Linked DNA regions of Homo sapiens: region 2 is linked to region 1. The links come from fine-mapping of genetic effects on gene expression. Tissue or cell type: whole blood. Region 1 holds a variant in brackets; the other region holds the start of a gene. All regions are shown on one strand. Distances are between the middles of the regions.

The links. PIP is the estimated chance that this variant, and not a neighbour inherited with it, causes the effect.
Region 2: it holds the start of SIN3B, and the variant in region 1 is fine-mapped to the expression of SIN3B in whole blood (TOPMed, PIP above 0.99). The same link has a PIP of 0.9 or more in blood mononuclear cells, monocytes and neutrophils.

The regions. Positions count from the first base shown.
Region 1 is chr19:16,801,085-16,803,839 of GRCh38, reverse strand. All of the region lies in intron 17 of NWD1 (NACHT and WD repeat domain containing 1), which reads right to left. All of the region lies in intron 2 of LOC124904648 (a long non-coding RNA gene), which reads left to right. Among named protein-coding and RNA genes, the nearest start is that of SIN3B, 27 kb to the left of the region's middle. The variant G/A (reference allele first, on the strand shown) is at 1,293.
Region 2 is chr19:16,828,259-16,831,013 of GRCh38, reverse strand. It overlaps SIN3B (SIN3 transcription regulator family member B), which reads right to left and starts at 1,616. Exons shown (of 19, transcript NM_001297595.2): 1 at 1,474-1,616; 2 at 1,117-1,223. The coding sequence starts at 1,593. RefSeq lists a silencer at 1,469-1,648 and an enhancer at 1,389-1,890.

The sequences.
Region 1 (2,755 bases):
AATTATCCTGCCTCAGCCTCCCCAGTAGCTGGGATTACAGGCACACACCACCACGCCCAGATAATTTTTTTTTTTTTTTTTTTTAAGTAGAGTTGGGGTTTCGCCATGTTGGCCAGGCTGGTCTCCAACTCCTGACCTCAAATGATCCGCCCACCTCAGCCTCCCAAAGTTCTGGGATTACAGGTGTGAGCCACCACACCTGGCCATGACTAGCTAGTTTCCACCTGATTGAAGTTATAGGCGTGTTATGGACTGAAGATTTGTGTCCCCCTGACAAATTCCTATGTTAAAATCATCACCCTCTGTGGAATGGTATCAGGAGCTTGGGCCTGTCTTAGTTCATTGGTGTTGCTAATGAAAACCTGTTTTTGACTAGCTACTTTCTACCTGATTGAAGTTATAGGAATGTTATGGACTGAAGATTTGTGTCCCCACCCCCCCACCAAATTCCTATGTCAAAATCCTCACTCCCCATAGGATGGTATTAGGAGCTGGGGCCTGTCTAAGTCTGTTGGTGTTGCTATGAAGGACTACCTGAGGCTGGGTAACTGAGATGGTTTGGCTGTGTCCCCACCCAAATCTCATTTTGAATTGCAATAATTCCCACAGGTCAAGGCCGAGGCCAGCTGGAGATAATTGAATCATGGAGGCAGTCTCCCCCATACTGTTCTTGTGGTAGCGAATAAGTCTCATGAGATCTGATGGTTTTGTAAAGGGCAATTCCCCTGCACACACTCTCTTGCCTGCCACCATGTAAGACGTGACTTTGCTCCTCATTTGCCTTCTGCCATGATTGTGAGGCCTTCCCAGCCATGTGCAAATGTGAGTCCATTAAACCTCTTTCCTTTACAAATTACCCAGTCTCAGGTATGTCTTTTTTTTTTTTTTTTTTGAGACAGAGTCTGACTCTTGCCCAGGCTGGAGTGCAGTAGCAAGATCTTGGCTCACTGCAATTGCCACCTCCTGGGTTCAAGCGATTTCTGGCTAAGTTTTGGAATTTTAGTAGAGACAGGGTTTTACCATGTTGGCCAGGCTAGTCTCGAACACCTGACCTCAAATGATGCGCCTGCCTTGGCCTCCCAAAGTGCTGGGATTACAGGTGTGAGCCAGCAGGCCCGGCCTCAGGTATGTCTTTATTAGCAGTGTGAGAACAGACTAATACAGTAATGCATAATTATGAATAAGAGGTTTATGTGGCTCATTGTTCTGCAGGCTGTACAGGAAGCATGGTGCCAGCTTCTGCTTCTGGTGAGGGCCCCAGGCTGCTTCTTCTTAATACAAAAGGTGAAGGG[G/A]GTTGGGGTGTGCAGAGGTCATACGGCCAGAGGAAGCAAGAGAGAGGGAAGTGCTAGCTTCCTTTTTTTTTTTTTTTTTTTTTTAATTGAGATAGGGTCTTGCTCTGTCACCTAGGCTGGAGTGCAGTGGTGCAATCACAGTTCACTGCAGCCTCAAATTCCTGGGCTCAAGCGATCATCCTGCCTCCATCTCTCAAGTAGCTGAGACTACAGGTGAATATCACCATGCCCAGCTCATTATTTTTATTTTTATTTTTATTTATTTATTTATTTTTGAGACAGAGTCTTGCTCTGTCACCCAGGCTGGAGTGCAATGGTGCTCAATGCAACCTCTGCCTGCCGGGCTCAAGCGATTCTCCTGCCTCCCTCCTGAACAGCTGGGATTACAGGTGCCCGCCACCACGTCCGGCTAATTTTTGTATTTTTAGTAGAGATGGGGTTTCACCATGTTGGCCAGGCTAGTCTTGAGCTCCTGACCTCGTGATCCACCCAACTCAGCCTCCCAAAGTGCTGGGACTACAGGCGTGAGCCACCATGCCCGGCCATTATTTTTATTTTTATTGCGACAAGGTCCATGTTGCCCAGGCTGGTCTTGAACTCCCGGCCTCAAGCAATCTTCCTGTTTCTGCCTCCTGAGTAGCTGGGGTCAGGTTCTTTTTAACAACCTCGCGAGAACTAACAGAGTTAGAACTTACTCACCACCACCACTGCCTTGCCAGGAGAGGGCATTAATCTATCCACGAGGGATGTGTCCTTATGACTCAAACACCTCCCGTGAGGCCTCCCTCCAACACTGGGGATTAAATTTCTTTTTTTATTGTTGTTTTGTTTTCAAACAGGGTCTTGTTCTGTCGTCCAGGCTGGAGTGCAGTGGCACAATCTCAGCTCACTGCAACTTCTGCCTCCTGGGCTCAAGTGATCCTACCACCACAGCCTCCCAAGTAGCTTGGACTACAGATGTGAGCCACTACACCGAGCTAATTTTTGTCTTTTATGTAGAGACGTCTGGTCTCAAACTCCTGAGCTCAAGTGATCCGCCCACCTCAGCCACCCAAAGTGCTGGGATCACAGGTGTGAGCCATCACGCCTGGCTTTTTTGTTTGTTTTTAGAGACAGGGTCTCACTCTGTCACCCAGGCTGGAGTGCAGTAGTGCGATCATGACTCACTGTAGCCTCAACTTCCCAGGCTCAAGCGATCCTCCCACCTTAGCCCCCAAAATAGCTAGAACAACAAGCACATGCCACCATATCCAGCTAATTTTTTTTTTGAGACAGAGTTTTGCTCTTGTTGCCCAGGCTGGAGTGCAATGGCGTGATCTCGGCTCACTGCAACCTCTGCCTCCCAGGTTCAAGCTATTCTTCTGCCTCAGCCTCCTGAGTAGCTGGGATTACAGGCATGCACCACCACGCCCAGCTAATTTTGTATTGCTTTAGTGGAGGTGGGGTTTTTCCATGTTGGTCAG
Region 2 (2,755 bases), 27 kb before region 1:
AGGCCTGAGCTCCCTGTTCCCTCCTGGTGAGAACCAGAGAATACTGACATCGCTCAGCTCCCCTAAAACACTCCAAGAATGGGTACTCGGTTCTGAAAATGTCAGGAGAGCCAACCGCAAGGCCTGGACTCCAAGAAATGGCAGGAGGCCAAAGTCCTCTAAGCAATGTGAAAACTTCCCTCATTTTGTATCAGATAGAGATGACTATGACACAGGTTTCCATCTGAGCAAACAATTGCAATGCATAAATACCAATGGTACTGCCAAGAATGGGAAAGGTGTAAGAAAAATAGGAGGGGAGAGATGGGGTCTCCCTTCTGGCTGCATTGCAGCCCAGCCCTTAGCACTGGGCTCCCGGAAGGAAACCAGGCCAGCCCCACCATGTTTCCTAAGAGGGGGCAGCAGTATGGTAAGCATGTGACTTCCAAGAATCTGAGTCAGAGGGTCTGAGTTCTAGTGACACCTCTGCCACTTAGGTGGGTCCCTTACCCACTCCAAACCTCAGTGAGTCTCCTATAAAAACAAGGGCATGATCCCAGGGTTTCCCATCTATCTGTAATCTTCCTTGATTCTGGGCCTGCAAAATCATCTCATGTGTTTTAAACGTTTTCTGTGTGCCAGCTCCCTTACTAAGCATTTTATGCGTCTTACTTCCAAGCAGGCCTGGGACCACAGTGAGCCCAGAGAAGCATCTTGAGGACAAGATTAAAGGGGAAGAGGGTGCCAAAAATTTCAATCATCAAGACAATAACATTTTACAGCGCTTGAAAATAAAAATCAAAATGGGTCCCACCAAATCTTTCATGAACAAAACTAATATAAAAATCAACATATTAAATCAAGGCAGGATTTGACTCTATGAGTGTGCACGGCCTCGCCCTCCCTGCCTCCCCCCAGATCCCTGTCCTGCTTCCAGGAATCCCCACAAAGCTCCACAAGGTGGGTACTACCCATTTCCATTTTTGTTACGAGAAGGAGCTAGGGCTCTGAGAGATTGGACAACCTGCGCAAGGTCACCCGGCTAAGGGGGCAGGCTGGAGAGGGGAGGTCTCACCCCGCTAGGCCCGATTCCGGCCCAGGGGGGTCCCCTGAGGTGGAGAGGGGCCCCGCTGGTACCTCTGGCTTTTGAACTCCTTCATGATCTCCAGGAAGCCGTTGTAGGTGGCAGGGTCGCTGCCAAAGCGGATCTTCACCTGGTCCAGATAGGTGAGGGCGTCTTCTACCTGCAGAGAGGGGGAGGGTCCCGGTGGGCCCTGGCCGCGGAACGAGGGGACGAGGGGCCGGGGTCCCTGAGGGGAAGGGGATGGGCTGGGCTTTCGGAGGGCCGAGGTGAGAGGTGAGGGGTGAGGGGTCCGGGGCAGTGCAGAGGGGAGGCCGAGGTGGGGCTGGGGCCGGGCGGGGCCTGGGTGAGGGGCGCCCGCCCGCGGGGTCCAGAAGATGGGTTCCCCGAGGGAGGGCGGGGACGCCACTCACGTGCACCGGCAGCTTCTCGTGGCCTGCGGAGCCCGAGCGACCCCAGCGGGCGCCGCTCAGCCCCCGGCCCGCGGGGCCGCCGGCACCGCTGCCACCGCTGCCACCGCCAGCGTGCGCCATGTCCGAAGTCGGAGCTGCGCCCCGCCCCGCCCCCGCCCGAGGTCCTGCCGCGCATGCGCAGCCTCCGCCTTTGGAGGCGGGGTTTGATGACGTTGAGGGGCGGTGCTCTTTGAGGGACTCTTCTGAAGACCTTCTCCTTAAGATTGGTATCATAATTAATGATTTATATAGCAGGGGTAGGCGAGCCAAGACCCGCCGCCTACTTTGTCCGGCCCCGCAAGCTCAGAATTATTTTTACATGTTTACATAGCCGGGGGAAAAATCCAAAGAAGAATAGTCTATGACCTGTGAAAAGTTTGTGAAATTCACATTTGAGGGTCCCTGAATAAAGTTTTATTAGCACACAGACACGCCCACGCGTTTACCTGGCTTCTCTGCCTGCTTTCGCCTTACAACAGAGTAGGTAGTTGCTAAAGATCCTACAGATCTGCAGACCCTGAAGTATTTACGATCTGGCCTTTTATGGAAAAAGTTTGTTGGCCCCTGCTTTATAGAGTTGACGGGACGATGAGGTATGAGCCCCCAGCGCCCTAATATAGGGCCTTGCGTGGTGAATTTTTGCTAAATGGCCTTTAAGTTAGTCCTACTCCTCCCATCTTCACTTCCCTATCCTTGGCCCCGTCACTTCCCATCTGGACCAGTTTAGGAGCCTCCTAACTCTGGTACTTTCTTTTTTTTTTTTTTTTTTTTTTTTTTTTTTTGAGACAGAGTCTCGCTCTGTCGCCCAGGCTGGAGTGCAGTGGCGCGATTTCCGCTCACTGCAAGCTCCGCCTCCCGAGTTCACACCATTCTCCTGCCTCAGCCTCCTGAGTAGCTGGGACTACAGGCGCCCGCCACTGCGCCCTGCTAATTTTTTGTACTTTTAGTGCCACCCCACCTGGCTCTAACTCTGGTACTTTCTCAGCCCTGATACTATCAAGAACTCTAGGCTGGGGATGGTGGCTCACGCCTGTAATCCCAGCACTTTGGGAGGCCGAGGCGGACGGATCACGAGGTCAGGAGATAGAGACCATCCTGGCTAACACGGTGCAACCCCGTCTCTACTAAAAATACAAAAAATTAGCCGGGCCTTGAAAAAAAGAAAAAGAAAATGAAAAAATTGGCTGGGCGCCGTGGCTCACGCCTGTAATCCCAGCACTTTGGGACGCCGAGGCGGGCAGAT